Regions from separate parts of the Homo sapiens genome. Here region 1 is linked to region 2. The links come from fine-mapping of genetic effects on gene expression. A gene starts in region 2. The other region holds a variant in brackets. All regions are shown on one strand. Distances are from middle to middle.

Region 1 (8,339 bases), 220 kb after region 2:
GAAGGGAGCTGGAGTGGCAGGACGGTGGAATGAGAACACACTGGAGTAAAGAAGGGGCTGGGGGTACCTGAGCCCTGTCCCCAACCCACTGCCATTTAATCAAGTTTTAACTTATTAATAGTTTCAAAAATCAAAAATGAGTGAGAGGGTTAGCTCTAAGATCCCTTAAGCTCTGTGATTTCTATTACCAGAAAAAGAAAGCCAAAAGAATCATTTTTTTCTCAACTCTACCCAAATGTAACAGATCTGTTTTACACTAGAAAGTTTCTCAGTGATATTTGATTTTAAAGAAAAAAAAAATTCAAAAACAAAACAAATTAAAAAGTTGTGCCTGAAAGGAATCTTGCTTTATTTGTTTTTTTGTTGTTGTTTGTTTGTTTGTTTTGAGACACAGTTTCACTCTTGTTGCCCAGGCTGGAGTGCAATGGCGCCATCTCAGCTCACCGCAACCTCTGCCTCCCGGGTTCAAGCAATTCTCCTGCCTCATCCTCCTGAGTAGCTGGGATTACAGGCATGCACCACCATGCATGGCTAATTTTGCATTTTTAGTAGAGATGAGGTTTCTCCATGTTGGTCAGGCTGGTCTTGAACTCCCAACCCGAGGTGATCTGCCTGCTTCAGCCTTCCAAAGTTCTGGGATTCCAGGTGTAAGCCACTGTGCCCGGCCTTGCTTATTTGGTTTTTATAAGAAGCTGCCTAGTTTCTGAGTCCTGTAAGATACAGGTATTTGGCCCTTGGTGTAGTTTCCATTTGACTTCTTGTCACAGGAAAAGACGGGTCTGATTCCTGAGCCCTCATATTAAATTGGCCAGATATAGGACCCCTGGCCAGTGGACCAAAGGCTTTGTGTAAGATGACAAGGGTCAGCTCAGGGAATGTGGGGAGGTATCTTTGGTCTTTCATGCTGTCGACGTTTTGATTTTCTTTGGTTAAAGAGGCCACTTATCTTTGTAAACCAAACATTTTTACTTTCTCTACTTTTCTGTTATAGGCAAAAGAATGGAAGTGAAGAAAGTTTTACTGGTTTTTCAGGTTTGTCAAAGATCAGATGGTTGTAGATGTGTGGTATTATTTCTGAGGACTCTGTTCTGTTCCATTGGTCTATATCTCTGTTTTGGTACCAGTACCATGTTGTTTTGGTTACTGTAGCCTTGTAGTATAGTTTGAAGTCAGGTATGTAGGGAGACCCCCTGAAACTCTTGCTACTACGGAATACAAGACGAAATGTTCCTGATTATTGTAAATACAAAGTTGCACGCAGGACTATGTAAAGTCAATGCCAGGTTGGACTGCCAGAATGAGCCAACAGTACGTGATGTGCTTCCCCCTGCAGAGAGCCTATGAACGGACATGCAGTCAGGGAGGTTTCACATCACCAAGATTCCTATCCCAGAAAAGCAGATGTTCATAGCTCTGGGAATGGAATGCGACCCTTGTGGAGAGCCTATAAACGGACGCATGAGGGGCACCTGTTCATAGGGATAAGACAGGGCTATAAATGCCCTCATCTTGCCACAGCTCTTCTTGGCCTCTTTAGGGTTAAGGCATACTCCCTTCTGAGAATTTTTGGTCTAACCGGTTGTCTAGCTTCACGTCCTGTTTCTATGGATTGTTTGTAACCAGCTTTTGCTGCAACTATTACTACTGATTAATATCTTGCTAATCATAGGTTATGGAAAGACTGTGTTTCTGTTTTAAGGCTCTGTTAGAAATTACTGATGCACACACTATATTTTAAATTCTAATCTCTGTATACTGTACTTCTGCATACAGATGTTATGTTAAAGAATTACTTCATTCCCATGTGACCATCTCACCTCATAATCAAATGACCCTAAATCCCTCACTAACCTACCCCCGCCCTCACTAAACTTAATAATAAATGCTGGTATATCCAGTGCATTGGCGGCATCACGGGACCAGAAGGCAGTGACCCCCCTGGACCCAGCTTTCACTATCTTGTGTGTGTCTATTATTTCTCGACCTGTCGATCTGCCTAGGAATAAGGAAAGAGCCCCGCTGCACTGTGGGCTGCTGGCCAGATCCTGCAATATCTGGCACCCAATATGGCCTTCTTTGTTCCTCGGCTCAGTGCACTCTGAGTGTGGGTTCATGATGACTAGTCTTCGGTCTCGACGATAAGGTCTCCAGGTACACCTTTTCTGACTCTCCCCTCTTTTCAGGTTTGTCAACTGGTATTATTCCAGGGTTATTATGGGACAATCACATTCTAAACACCAGGCTTATCTGTCTTTTATTAAACGTCTTCTTAAACAGGGTGGAATCCAGGCTGATTCCTATAACCTTATTCTCTTATTTCAGACTATTGAAAAATATTGTCCTTGGTTCCCTGACAAAGGTTCTATGGACCTGTTAGACTGGGATAGAGTTGGCACCACCCTCTGCCAACTCATGAGAGATGGTGTTTTACTTCCTATTTCTGGTTGGGCTGACTGGGCTCTTATTCAGGTCACTTTACTTCCTTTTCAGTCTGGTGATCCTCTTCAACTGCCACAAGTTAACACGGATGGTGAGCCGCTCCCTGTACCTCGAGTAGCTGACCCCCTACTAGTCCTCCTTCTGATCATGATGAGGAATTTGATCTCTCCTTGTTTTCTCCCCAAGAGGAGGAACCTGGTGATGATCCCCTCCCTCCACCTCCTATCTTGGAACCTGTATATGTTAACTCTTCTTCTACTAAGCCATTGCCCCCTCTGCCAGAGGAGGACATGTGGCATTCATCTGAATGGCCTGTTTCTCATTCCTCTCATCCTTTTAGAACTCTCCCCTCTTCTAAGCCTACTGTTTCTTTCGACACTCCAGGACCCCTTCTTTCAGAGGCTTAGAATCCTGTCTCCCCCAAGTCCACGTCCCAGTGCCCTCACTCTCCTTCTCTTCCTCTGCCTCTACACAATGGATGTATGAGTCACCTGTTTGGGTAGAGCAGTGGCCAATTTCCAAACACAAGTTGGAGGCTTTAATTGAAATTGTTAATGATTTACTACAAGCAAACATTATTGAGCCCTCCTTGTCTCCATGGAACTCGTCTGTGTTTGTTGCACAAAAAAAGTCAGGAAAATGGAGGATGGTAACAGACTTAAGAGCTGTTAATGCAGTTATTAAACCTATCAGGGTGTTACAACCTGGTATGCCCTCCCCCTCCACGATTCCTAAGAAATGGCCTTTAATTATCATTGACCTTAAGGACTACTTTTTTCATATTCCTTTAGACAAGTCAGACTGTGAAAAATTTGCTCTCACTATACCTTCCATTAACAATTCAGCTCCTACAGCTAGATATGAATGGAAAGTTTTACCTCAAGGAATGATTAACAGTCCTACTATTTGCCAGTTGTTTGTCAGTACTGTGTTACAATCTATTCGACAGATTTTTAAAAATAATTACATTCTTCGTTATGTGGATGATATACTGATTGCTGCTCCTACTAAAGATGAATTAATTCAATGTTTTACCTCTTTAAAATTAGCTGTTGCCAATGCAGGACTCCACATTGCTCCTAATAAAATTCAACAAGCCACTCCTTTTCTGTACTTAGGAATGCACCAACGCACCTAGAAGCTCGCGCCATTAAGCCCCAAAAAGTCCAACTTCATACTGACAATTTAAACACCTTAAATGATTTTCAAAAATTACTAGGTGACATCAATTATCTCAGACCAATCCTAGGCATCCCTACTTATGCATTATCTCATCTATTTGCTACTTTATCAGGAGATACAGATCTAAACAGTCCTCACTGTCTATCTGAACCAGCAGAAAAAGAGTTGTCTTTTGTAGAACAATGAGTGAAAGAGGGACAAGTCTCTCATATTGACCCAAATTTGCCTTTACAAATTTAGTTTTTCCTTTCATCCACTGTCCTGCAGGACTTATAGTACAAAATGATTCTCTTGTTGAATGGGTATTTCTTCCTAATTCAGCCTCTAAAACTCTTTCAATATATCTTGATCAAATGGTCACTTCAATTGGGTTAGGACGTCAACGTATCACTAAAATTTCCGGCTTTGATCCAAACATTATTGTGGTCCCTTTGTCAAAAAATGAGGTTAAAAATGCCTTTTCTACATCCTTGTGCTGGCACAGACTAATCTGGCTGACTTCACTGGCACTATTGATAATCATCTGCCTAAGCCAAAATTCTTTCAATGTCTACGAAACACTTCCTGGATTCTACCAAAACTTACTCGTTCATCACCACTAGAGGCAGGTGTTACCATTTTTACTGATGGATCCAGTAATGAAAAGGCAGTGTACGTAAGACCAAAAGATAAAGTCATTTCTACTCCATACACTTCTGCTCAAAAAGCCGAGCTGTTTGCTGTTATCTCTGCATTACAAGATTTTGATCAGCCTCTTAATATTGTCTCTGACTCAGCTTATATAGTGCTTGTCACTAAGGCAATAGAAACAGCTACCATCAAAAATATTGCTGACACTAATCTGTTTTCCTTGTTCTCT[T/C]TGTTACAAAAACCTGTCAGAAACTGAAACCACCCCTTTTTCATCACTCACATTTGATCTCATACTAATTTGCCTGGACCTTTATCCAGTGGTAATCATAAAGTTGATATTCTAGTTTCTCTAGCCATTACAGATGCAGAACAATTTCATCAACTCATTCATACTAATGCTTCAGGTCTTAAACATAAATATTCTCTGAGTTGGAAACAAGCTAAACAAATTGTACAATACTGTTCTCAATATCAGTGTTGAGATTGTCTCAACACTGGAGTTAATCCCTGAGGCCTTCTCCTAATGCTCTTTGGCAAATTGATATTACTCATGTTCCTTCTTTTGGAAAATTAGCTTACGTGCATGTCACAGTTGACACCTTTTCCAATTTCATCTGGGATACCTGTCAAACCGGAGAAGCCACTTCTCATGTTAAAAACATATGTTTTCATGTTTTGCAGTTATGGGAATTCCTAGTGAGCTCAAAACAGACAACGGTCCAGCCTATTGCAGTAAAGCTTTTAAAAATTTTCTTGATCAGTGGCATATTAAACATATTACTGGTATTCCTTATAACCCACAAAGCCAAGCTATTGTAGAAAGAAGTAACAGAACTTTAAAATTATAATTACTTAAACAAAAGAGGGGGATAAGGAGTTGTCTACCCCTCACATACAACTAAACTTGGCATTGCTCATGTTAAATTTTCTTAATATTCCTAAATCTAGTTCTGTTACTGTCACCGAAAAACATTTTTTCTGGTAACCATCTGACAATAAACCAAGTAAGGGAAGTATGGTGGAAAGATGTTCAATCTAATATATGGTCAAAAGCTTCTATTTTAACGTGGGGAAGAGGCTATGCTTGTGTTTCCCCAGGTGAACATCAACCTCCTGTTTGCATTCCTGCTAGACACCTGAAATTGTGTCCTGAAGATGCATGCAACAACGAGACAGAGAAATTTGCTGAAAAAATGCCACAGCAGGAAACAACTAGCACATCCAACCGTCAAAAAGAAAAAAAATAACCACGCTAACTCCTTTACAACAGACAATCCAGTCAGCCATCCTAAACAACTCGTCTCCAGCGGTCCAGGTCCGGCTCACCCTCTGCCCCCTCCTGATGACACTGATCCTTCTACCCTGTGTCACTCCACAGACTGTTAAAAACTATACATATTGGGCCTATATTCCTTTTCCTCCTCTTATTTGAGCCATGATATGGATGGACGCTCCTATCAGGTCTATGTTAATGATAGTATTTGGATGCCTGGTTCTGTAGATGATCGTTGTCCTGCCCAACCTTCAGAAGACGGAACCCCTTTCAATATCACTTTAGGTTTTAGGTATCCACTTTTGTTCCTGGGACCCACTAATGGATATCTCTCATTAGATATTCAAACTTGGGCAGTCACACTACCATCTGGTCACTCTGTCCCTCCTTTAGGACACTTGGTATCAGGGCTCTCATTAAAACTTCTAAGGCAGATCAAAATAGGAATTGCTCGCTGATTATATTCACACATCCCAATATAAGCCTTTAGGACCTGTGTGTCCTCTCAACGTGTCTTCAAATGCTAACAAATTAATATGGAAGGATTGTGTTAGTTCAGAAGGAACTGTGTTATTTAATTCTTCTCACTATACCATTGTTGATTGGGCTCCTAAAGGTCATATTACTAATGATTGCTCTCAGGGTCACAGATTGTCAACATTTTCTCTATAATATTACTTACAAAAAAGTAGTGACAACCCTCCCCTATTATATCGTAGATTTAACTCCTTTTTTCCTTTTAAGTGGAAAGGGGCAGGGGTTGCCCCTCCAAAGCCAAGGCTCATTGTTCCCCACTTAGGACCTGAACATTCAGAATTATGGAGATTAACCATAGCTATGACTGGTATGAGAGTTTGGGCTGGAGAAAGTGTTATAAGTAAATCCACCTTGTCACCTCAAAAACTAAGACAACAGATTGATTTACACTACTATTTCCACACAGCCAAAAATATCACTATGGCAATCGTCAAAAGGTCAATTCAAAGATGGGACAGTAAAGATTATGAGGACTTATACCCCCCCATCACTAATGTCCCCCCACCACCTCTCATACAACCTATTCCCCCCACCCCACATTCACAGAGTACCATCCCAAAATATATACACTGTCTATATGGAATCCAACAAAACTATACTACTTAAAAGTTGTGTTAAACCACCATATATGTTATTAGTAGGAAAGATGCATACTAGTTCAAAAACCAACATAATTACCTGTGTTAATTGTTACTTGTATACTTGTATTGACTCATCCTTTAATCAGTATCATAGCATTTTAATAGTCAGAGCCAGAGAAGGTATTTGGCTCCCCGTAGCCTTACATAGGCCTTGGGAATCTTTCCCCTCTCTCCATGTTATTAACAATATTCTACAAAAAATTCTTAAAAGGAGTAAACTATTTATTTTTACATTAATTGCAGTAATGATGGGCTTGATTGCTGCTACGGTGACTGCTGCTACTGCTGGAGTTCCATTACATCAATCAATTCAAACTGCCCATTTTGTGGATAAATGGCAAAAAAATTCTACTTGGATGTGGAATTCTCAGTCAGGTATTGATCAAAAATTGGCCAAATTAATGATCTAAGACAAACTGTTATATGGATGGGAGATAGAATTATGAGTTTAGAACAAAGATCACAAATGCAATGTGATTGGAATACTTCTGATTTTTGTATAACTCCGTTTCAACATAATGAGTCTGTTCACAATTGGGAATCAGTAAAACGCCATTGACAAGGAACTGAAGGTAATTTAAGTTTAGACATAAGCAAGCTAAAAGAACAGATTTTTGAGGCCTCTCAAGCACACTTAACTGCTTTACCTGGTGCTGAAGTTTTAGACAGTATATCTGACGGGTTATCTAATCTCAACACCATTCAATGGGTAAAATTTTTGGGAGGATCCACAATCGTTAATTTTGTTCGTGTATAATTTGTGCTATTGCTTTATTATTCATGTGTAAAACTAGAAAAAATATTCTTCAGTCCAATCATGATCAGTGCCAAGCTATGATTGCTACGGTTCATTTAAATCAGAGAAAAGGGGGAGATGTAGGGAGACCCCCTGAAACTATTGCTACTACAGAATAAAAGATGAAATGTTCCTGATTATTGTAAATACAAAGTTGCACGCAGGATTGTGTAAAGACAATGCCAGGCTGGACTGCCAGAATGAGCCAACGGCACATGAAGTACTTCCCACTGCAAAAAGCCTATGAATGGACGTGCAGTCACGGAGGTTTCACATCACCAAGATTCCTATCACAGAAAAACAGATGTTCATAGCTCTGGGTATGGAATGCGACCCTTGTGGAGAGCCTATAAATGGACGCACGAGGGGCACCTGTTCATAGGGATAAGACAGGGCTATAAACGCTCTCATTTTGCCATGGCTCTTTTAGGCCTCTTTAGGGTTAAGGCATACTCCCTTCTGAGAATTTTTGGTCTAACCGGTTGTCTAGCATCACGTTGTTTCTATGGATTGTTTGTAACCAGCTTTTGCTGCAACTATTACTACTGATTAATATCTTCCCAATCATAGGTTATGGAAAGACTGTGTTTCTGTTTTAAGGCTCTGTTAGAAATTACTGATGCACACACTATATTGTAAATTTTTATCTCTGTATACTGTACTTCTGTATACAGATGTTCTGTTAAAGAATTACTTCATTCCCATGTGACCATCTCACCTCATAATCAAATGACCCTAAATTTCTTACTAATCTACCCCCACCCTCACTAAAATTAATAATAAATGCTGGTATATCCAGTGCATTGGCAGCATCTTGGGACCAGAAGGCGGTGACCCCCCT
Region 2 (8,339 bases):
GCTTAAAACTTTTTATGAAAAAACATATATACCCACAGCAGTGACATCAATAAGTAAAAAAGGAGGGCGGGGGGCAATTCATCATTTTCCATGCATATACATAAGCCTGAGCAGTTGGTTTCATTGTGTTTCAGAATAAGGTATTTGACAGCCCTGCTGACGCTCTTCTCTGGACAAATTAGAACATCTTTACCTTTTTCTGGTTCTTGACTTCCAGTTCAGGGTCTTCACATTTGTTTGGCCCTTCTCCATTTTATTTATTTATTTTTTAATAAAAGCATCTCAGATAAGAATTTGGAGCTTCAGCTTAAAGGAGAAATCCCTCTAGATAATACACCGAGTAAAAAAGCTACATCCAAATTAATTAAATGACATGACCCAAGCATCTATTTTGAAATTATCTTAAGTATAGTGGGTTTAACAGAAACCACATATCATATAAAATAAACCGAATTTTAAAACATATATCATTCTATAACGTTTATGTTGACCAACAGTAAGGAAGTTCACTGTGCATATTTGCCGTGGAGAGTCATTCCATGTCATTTTTCTCACCCATGCAATACATACCCTAATCAAAATATATGTGCATATGCATAATTGAAATGGTCCTCAAAATTAGCCAATGAGTGGAATGCTTTCAAGCATTAATCTATAAAAATATGATTTTTTATAAACTTCTGTAAATTTTAAGCGTTCTAATATGACATCAATTTTTTCAAATAGTTAACATTTGGTAGCTCTTAGACTCCTATGAATTACTTCAAAAAATCTCCCAATAATTCTTAAAGAGTCAATGTTTTCAAGACACTTTGTTTTTGATGTTAATACCAGCAAATGTCCTCCCCCATGAATGTTTCTTTAGCTGTGTGATTTTCACAAGGAACAGGCAATAACACAAAGCTGATATTTAATAAAACCCAGCAAGATCTCTCATTTCAGAATCATTAAGCAAAACGACTCTGTCCTCCAAACAAAACATTTTTCAAGTTAACTTGATTTTTAAAAATATGTAAGAACATTTTGGAATGATCTTTTAAGTTTAACTGAATTTATATACCAAACTTTTGGATTTAGAGGGAAACTGCAGAAAAAGAAATATTCACGTTTCACAGTTTTTGGCATGTAGCAGCAGCTCGCAGAGGAAGCATTATGGCCTGGAAGCTAGGATAGGGCTGGTTCTCACTGTGCACTGTCTAGCTGTGTGGCCCGGCAAGCTACCTCTGCTGATTTCAGATTCCTTATCTGTAAACTGAGTCAAAGGACCATTAAACCTATTTTGTTCCTTCCAGCTCTAATTGTCTACTCTTCAAGTCAAAATGAAAAGATAAATTTCTAATGTTTAAGTTATATTTTAGTATCACTTTAAAATGTTCAAAATAATCTCAAAAGCCCAACCATCACTAGTATTGAATTAAAGATGAATCTATGTAAACTGTTAAAACTTTAAAAAATTCAAATGTGTGTTCATCTCATTTTGTCAGTGCAGTTTTGTAATTTATTTCTGAGTAGTCTCACTCTTTCTAATTATCATTCTCCAACCTCATCCCTTCAAAAACACATTTTTCAAAGTTTTACAAGTATAAAGGCAACGTGAAGTAATTTCTCCCTCTGCACTTGGAGTAATGTGCATCACTATTTTGTCTGGGCATCATTAAAAACGATTTCTTCCATATTTACTTTGTGTTTGCTAATTACTAATTTAAAATTAATTTAATTTAAATTAATACTAAATTACTTCAAAGGCAAATCCTATATAAGATTTTAAATTGAAAGGCAGCTTAAATCTGAGGCAGTCTAAAGGAAGATGGCCTAAATTAAGGGTCTCAAAGTACCACCAAATGTCTAACAACTGCTCAAAAAAGAAAAAAAAAAACTCAGAAAATACATAGTGCAAATTCTCATGCACCAGGACCACAGGACTGAGCCACCGCGCCTCCCACACAGTGCAAATTCTAAGCTGAAAAAAGTCCCAATCTAATTTTTGAAAACTCTATACTTATTTTAATTTAAAAGCCTTAATATTCCTGTGTAGGCTAACAACTGACAAGATGACCCGTAAGTTTTATAGAGCATTCTGATATGGATACTAACAGTCAAATATAGAGCTCCTGGCTGCATTTAAACAAAAGAAATATTTTCAAAAAAAAAAAAAAGAACTCACAAGGACAGTGGCCTTAACTCTTAAATTACATTTTAAAAAATACTTCATGACTGGATACACAGAATTTGCATTCTAAACTTACAACAGTTTTTTTTAATGGTGGGGGATTTAGGAAGGGGTTAGATCTTTTCCCATATCTCATTTATATAAATTAGCTGGCAACTCATCACCCAGTTTTCTTCTCTATGCTAAATTACAGAAGATTATATAGATAGATACAATCTCCCATAATGACGCACCCACTAGGAAGAGGTGTCTCAAACAAGAACACAAGTTCATTCCAGATTAAAACTAGAGCATAACTGGCCTTAAGGAACAAAATGTGACTGATCTGGAGAAAAGGATCCACCTACTGAAGAGAAGTAAAAATCTTAAGGGTCCAACAAATACACCTCAGAAAATGCTGCATGTTTATATGCTACCCTGCCTTGTGTTGTTTTCCACTTCCTGAAAGAACAGGTCAGGTGCTAACGGTAACAATACAGCATGTGTCTTCTGTAACCTCAAGCAAGGACATGATGGCTTGAAAAAAGCCTCTGCTGCCTTGCGTTTCTCTAGGCTGACTGTAGGGCTTTGGGTCATTCATAAACAGCAGGACCTAAGTTACCTGTATTTCCCTGGCGTGGTACACGATGATCAGACCGAGCAGGATGATCGTGGAGAGACTGATAAGGCATTTCAGAGCTAAGGAATACAGCGACGCCTGCAACACAGTCAGACAGAAGCACTTTTAAGAAAGAAGCACTTTTAACCGCCTTCCACGTCCCCAGAGTCAGTCAGTCCCCCACAGGTGGACCTGAACTCACAGAAGGAAGATAAGGGGAGAGGGGTGCACCTGTCTTGGCTCTGTGATCTGTCAGATCACTCGGCCTCAAAACCAAAAGAGACGAGAGTAGACCTGGAAAGACTGGGAAGACGCGTGGCTGGGCTGCTGGGTCCACGCCATAGAGGACCGAAGCGAGCGCCGCTGTTCCAGGCTAGCAAAACCAGAGGAACTTACTTCTGAGTTCAAGAGAGCGGGTTGAAAGGGCCCTTCTAAACATAATTCACGAGGGGATGAATTACAGATGGTTTCCCCACCGACTTCCAGAACCACTTACTTAAGGTGCCCGAATGCGCTGAGCACTCTTAACTGCCTCGAGAACTTTGGCTGCACGCGGAAAGGGTTCATCTCCGAGTTGTTTAGCTGACTACGGATGCGCGTCCTAGACGCGCCCGCTGTCCTGGCGGGCTCCCTTGATCGTCCCGGAGAGGCTAGGGATCCGCACGCAAAGGGTCCCCGCCAGTGCCCATCCCAACCACCCAGTGCCCGACTCCGGTAGCGTGGGCTGGGGTTCAAGCCTGTACCTTGTCGTAGGCGCCCCACGACAGCTCGGTCTCGATGACCATGACCACGATGCCGAACATGCCGAAGATGAGCGCGTAGTCGCTGAGCCGCTTGCGCTTTTCGAACAGGGCGCGCCGGTGGCCCAGCTTGTAGCCGATGTTCTGGTTTTTCTTTTTGCTGGACTTGGTGCCACTGCTGCTGCCGTGCCCGCTCCCGCCACCGCCGCCGCCTCCTCCAGTGCTGCCTCCGCCGCCGGTTCCATAGAGCGCCAGGTTGTTGGAGTTGTTGTGCTCGGGCTTAGACACCACGATCTCGGGGGCTGAGGACGAAACAGCGGCGGCGGCGGCAGCGGCTGCAGACGGGGAGGACGCGCCGCCACCTCCTCCGACAGACGCGGGGGGCTGCAGGGGCTGCGCCTCTGAGTCCATCTCGTGCAGGTTCCGGCGGGACGCGCTCAAGTTGCTGAGCGGCCGCATGACGCCCCCGTTGTACCTGCAGCTGCTCATGGCTATTTCGGTGAAGGGGTTGCTCTCGCGGCGCGCCTGGGGCTGGTGGTGCTGGTGGTGCGCCGGGTGCGGGTGGTGGTGGTGGTGCGAGAGCGGGGGCCCGGAGCCCAGACTGCCGAGGCTGCCCGTGGGGCTGGCGGCGGGCTGCAGGCTGTGGCACTGGTGGTACTGGGAGGCGGACGCCGACTGCTGCGCGGACTGCTGCGCGTACTGCTGCCGGAGCGCACTGGCATGGCTGGACGGCGTCAGCTCGCTCACATTGAGCTGGCTGCCCCGGCGCGACGAGCAGCAGCAGCAGCAGCAGGACGAGCCCGACAGCGGCGAGGAGGTGCGGGTCCGGAAGGCGCCGCCGGGCGAGGAGGTGCGGAGCAGCAGGGACAGGTTATCTCCCGCCCCCGCCGCCGGGGCACCGGAGGAGGCGCAGCTGTTGCACCGGAGGCATGGGCTGCTGCCGCCGCTGGCCGGCTGCTGGTGCGCGAGGTGCGGGTGGTGGTGAGGGTGCGGGAGGGGCGCGAAGGGCGGGCACGGCTTGTCCTGGCTCTGTTGCTGCTGCTGGCAATGCAGGTGTGAGGAGCGCGGCGGCGGCGGCGGCTGCTCTGGGAAGAAGCCGCGCTGGAACTGCAATGGGGTTTCCATGTCAGGGCTGTTAAAGCTGCAGGGAGACCAAGCGGTGGTGCACCCTGCGCAATGCGTTATGGTCGGGAGCGGGGACTCCTGCTGCTGGTGCGAGGAAGGGCCCATGCCGGCTCCGGTAGAATCCAGGCGGCGAGTCCGATTGGTTGGGCGCACCAAAACAATGGGCATGACATCACCTGCGGGGACCGAGACTGAGTTTGCGGCGCGCGCGGCTTAGGGAAGCGTGTGTGGCAGAGAAAGATGGGGAGGGGAATCTGCAGGACAAACCCTAGGGGGGTGCAGTCCAGAGCCAGGGCGCTCCAGGGCAGGGATTCCGCCTGCTGATTGCGTGGAGATGGAGAGCCCCCACGCAGTGCAGCTGGGCTGCAGGGGGAGGAGAAAAGAGAAAGGCGCCCCTCCCTCCCGTGCCGCTGCCCCCTTGACTAGTGCCGGACGCGCTGCCCGGATCACCTGCGCCAGCCACTGCAGCACGTCGGGCCACCTTGGCCGGGGGCAGGCTCAGGGACGGTGTGGAACCCCGACCACTTCTCCGACTGCACGCCTCGCAGGGCTGCAAAACAGCAGCCCCCTCGTCCCACGCCCGCTTCTCCCAGATCATCCCGCCGAGAGTGGGCTGCCGGCTGCCCGCCAAGTAACTGCGGGGGCACTGGCTTTGGGGAGAAAAAGTTTGGCGACCGGCTGCGCCAGTGCAGCAGCGTGTGGGGAGAATCCCGGGGCCTGAGCCCTGCCTTGGCCGCTGCGGGATCATAGCCGACCCCGAGACCGGATCTTTCCCAGCCGGCAGGCTCTGGAATCTGGATTGGGTGCGCGGCGCTCTAGCCCAAGTGCGCTGCGGCGCGGGTAGGGTTAACCGCCTCGGCACCCCGGCCGGGGGTGGGTGGGGGCGGGGCCGGAGGAGGGGATCCCCGCAGTCTGCCGACAGAGCCGGCCGGGCTTCCCGGGTCCCCCCTGGCGGGGGCGGAGGGCTTTCCCCGCTACCGCCAGCTCACATTTGCGCCTTCTCCAGAACATGAGGGGATGGCGCCCCCGGCCGCCGGGTCCTGGGCTCTGGCGCTCAGGCCCTCCGGCAGCCCGAATCCGGAGGTCCCAGGGCTTCCTTGCCGGTGGAGAGGCAGGCGGCTCGCTCAAAGGTGTGGGGGCTGCTCAGCCACCGCCGGCCTCCAGCTGCTCTTCTGCTTCTCTTCCTCCTCCTCACCTGCAGCGCAGACACAAAGCAAAGACCGGTCACAAATACGCAAATATCGAGCATCTTTGCCAAGTCCTAACTGCAGCGGCGGGTGGGAAAGGGGCCTGGCGCGGGCTGATTCACCCCGGTAGTCGCAGCCTGGCAGGGAAATTAAGAATGATAGCTTGGGCTGAATAGTCGCTGCCCACGGACAGTGCTGGAGTTTTGTTGGAGTTCGGTATCATTATTTATTTATTTACTCTCTAATAAACTAACAAAAATTGCATTTGGTGTCTCACAAATTCCCTGTGCTGTCTTCTTCTAAGAGATGTACCAACACAATGCACTAGGTGATCCTTATGTTCTTTGTTTCTGCTCCATCTTAAGTCTTTACATTTGCATTTCTTTGTGAATTCAAATTCCCGTCTCCCCCTAAAGAAGGTGAAAGAAATTGGCCCGTTGAATATTTGTTTCCATTTTAAATTATTTTAAAGCCTGCTTTTCATGATAAAGACTATTACAACGAGTTAGACCTAGCAATTAGAGTGAAAGCGGATCACCCTCATTAGGTCATTAGGTAATTGGAATTCTCAGCTGGATCCAATTTCTTGATATTCTACTCGGCAGCTGCCCTAAAGTTGCTTACCTGGTATCTGCTTTTCAGAGTGTGCGTGTGTGCGCTTTCAATGCCATGGAATGAATAATTCATTTTATGATGTTCTTTGGACACATGTTAATTTTAATTTTTTGTGTGTGCAAATAAACATTCAGCAGAAAAAAAGGGGTGGGGGGTGCACAGCTGCTTTTAGTCCCGTAGCCCTGGACTTGAGCTAATTAATACTGTCCGGAATTGAATTTCTCAATGGTCTTGGTCAAGAATATAATTTAGTGGCTAACAATCAGAGACAGCATTTTGTTTTTATCATCTATTACTATTTTTGTTCTGTATCTTCAAAATAGCAATTCAATAAAACTTCTTTAGAATCACGAAGCTAATTGAGTCTTCGGGGCAGCTGAGTAGATACTGCATAAATTGTGTGGAAAGCATGAGTATTCAAAACAATCCTGCGAAGTAATTTGAATTAAAATGAAAGTTTCCCTATGAAAAGTTACTAACCTGGTCTGAAAAAGAAATTCAACTCATGCGGAAAATCCATCAAACATGTATTAGGACGCTTTTCAACAAATTATGTAGCTTTCCAGTTGCTATACGTAGCGATTGAGTGAAAATGTTTGATTCATCCTTACAAATCTAAATACTTCAAAGGAACATTATGGTAAATTAATAAATATTTTTATTAGCCGTTCATAAATTTAGATAAAAGATTACATAGCCTCCACCCCTGAAATATCATAATAGTTGTTGCCAGCATTAAATTAGATATAAGGTTCTACAGTTACTAAACTGTCATAAGAAAAATAATGGCTGCATCCCTTGTGTCAAACTGACTTTGTCAAATAGCAAATTCACGGCTTCAACAGAGGCTCCAAAACCAAAATAATAGGCAAAAATGTATCTTTTGCCATGTATATCTCTATGCTGTAATATGGGATTAGTTGCAGTGCTATTAATCATGTAGAAATCATGTAGAAATAATCATCTCAGAAATTGCCTACTGAGATTTATGGCAATGTTGCATGGAGTTCTCACTTCTCTTCAAGGGGGTACACAGGAGGATAGAATGCACAAAATTCAGAAGAAAATGGAAATTTGATTCACAACATGAGGGACTGTCGGAACACCAAAACTCAGACTAATACTACTTCCGGCTAGCACTATTTTGAAAAAGCTCATAAAATAATTTAATAATGTAAAACTCACTGTGATTGGACAGAGAGCAAATCAATCAGACATTTATCGGCTTTCTGTTAAGAAATCAACTGATTACACACACTCAGCCGTCTTGCTAATAAATATCTGTATATTGAGAGTGTGGTAAACCTGTATTACTATGATGATGAAAAAACACAAGATAATTTTGTTTCATTTTTAGTCTGAATCATAACTTCATTATTTAAGGCATTTTACACTATTAGGTTATAACAGGCACATTTAAGAAGTTCTTATTTTCATCATTCCTCTTTTAATAAAGTCAACAAATTTTAAGTTTATATGTAGACATTTAAAATGTGCATAACATGATTTCTTTTTTTTCTACACAGGACTGTAGAGATACATGTAACATGTAAAGTTAAATGAAGCAACAAAGGCAATATTCTTCCACGTGGATAGTAGTTTGCACATAGTAGATACTTATTTATATTTGTGAGTACAGAGAGAAGGAGAGAGGAAGGAAATGAAGAAACATTGGGGGAAAAAAAAAGACGCAGATCAAGGGCTATGACTTCCAGTGATAAGCTTTCAGAAAATTAAATTTCCTTCTTTTTGTTCCATTAAAGCATATAAGTGAGAGAATTTCCCTAGATTAACACCAGAGGTCATACTCAGCCACAAAATGTATTTCAAATCTAATCAATTAAATCTATTTCCAGCATCACTTTTTAATAAAAATTGCCTATTTTTTTCTTATGGCCTACAAC

Direction of the effects. Alleles are on the strand shown, and positions count from the first base shown. SD is a standard deviation of normalised expression in the study named.
In carriers of allele C in region 1, the expression in esophagus muscle of the gene that starts at base 4,703 in region 2 tends to be lower than with T alone (small effect, 0.31 SD a copy in GTEx).

Evidence for each region. PIP is the estimated chance that this variant, and not a neighbour inherited with it, causes the effect.
Region 1: its variant is fine-mapped to the expression of KCNN2 in esophagus muscle (GTEx, PIP above 0.99).

What each region holds. Positions count from the first base shown.
Region 1 is chr5:114,143,068-114,151,406 of GRCh38, reverse strand. It overlaps a transcript of KCNN2 not described here. Among named protein-coding and RNA genes, the nearest start is that of KCNN2, 210 kb to the left of the region's middle. The variant T/C (reference allele first, on the strand shown) is at 4,481.
Region 2 is chr5:114,358,434-114,366,772 of GRCh38, reverse strand. It overlaps KCNN2 (potassium calcium-activated channel subfamily N member 2), which reads right to left and starts at 4,703. Exons shown (of 8, transcript NM_021614.4): 1 at 3,512-4,703; 2 at 2,772-2,867. The coding sequence starts at 4,633. RefSeq lists a silencer at 5,426-5,635 and an enhancer at 5,674-6,590.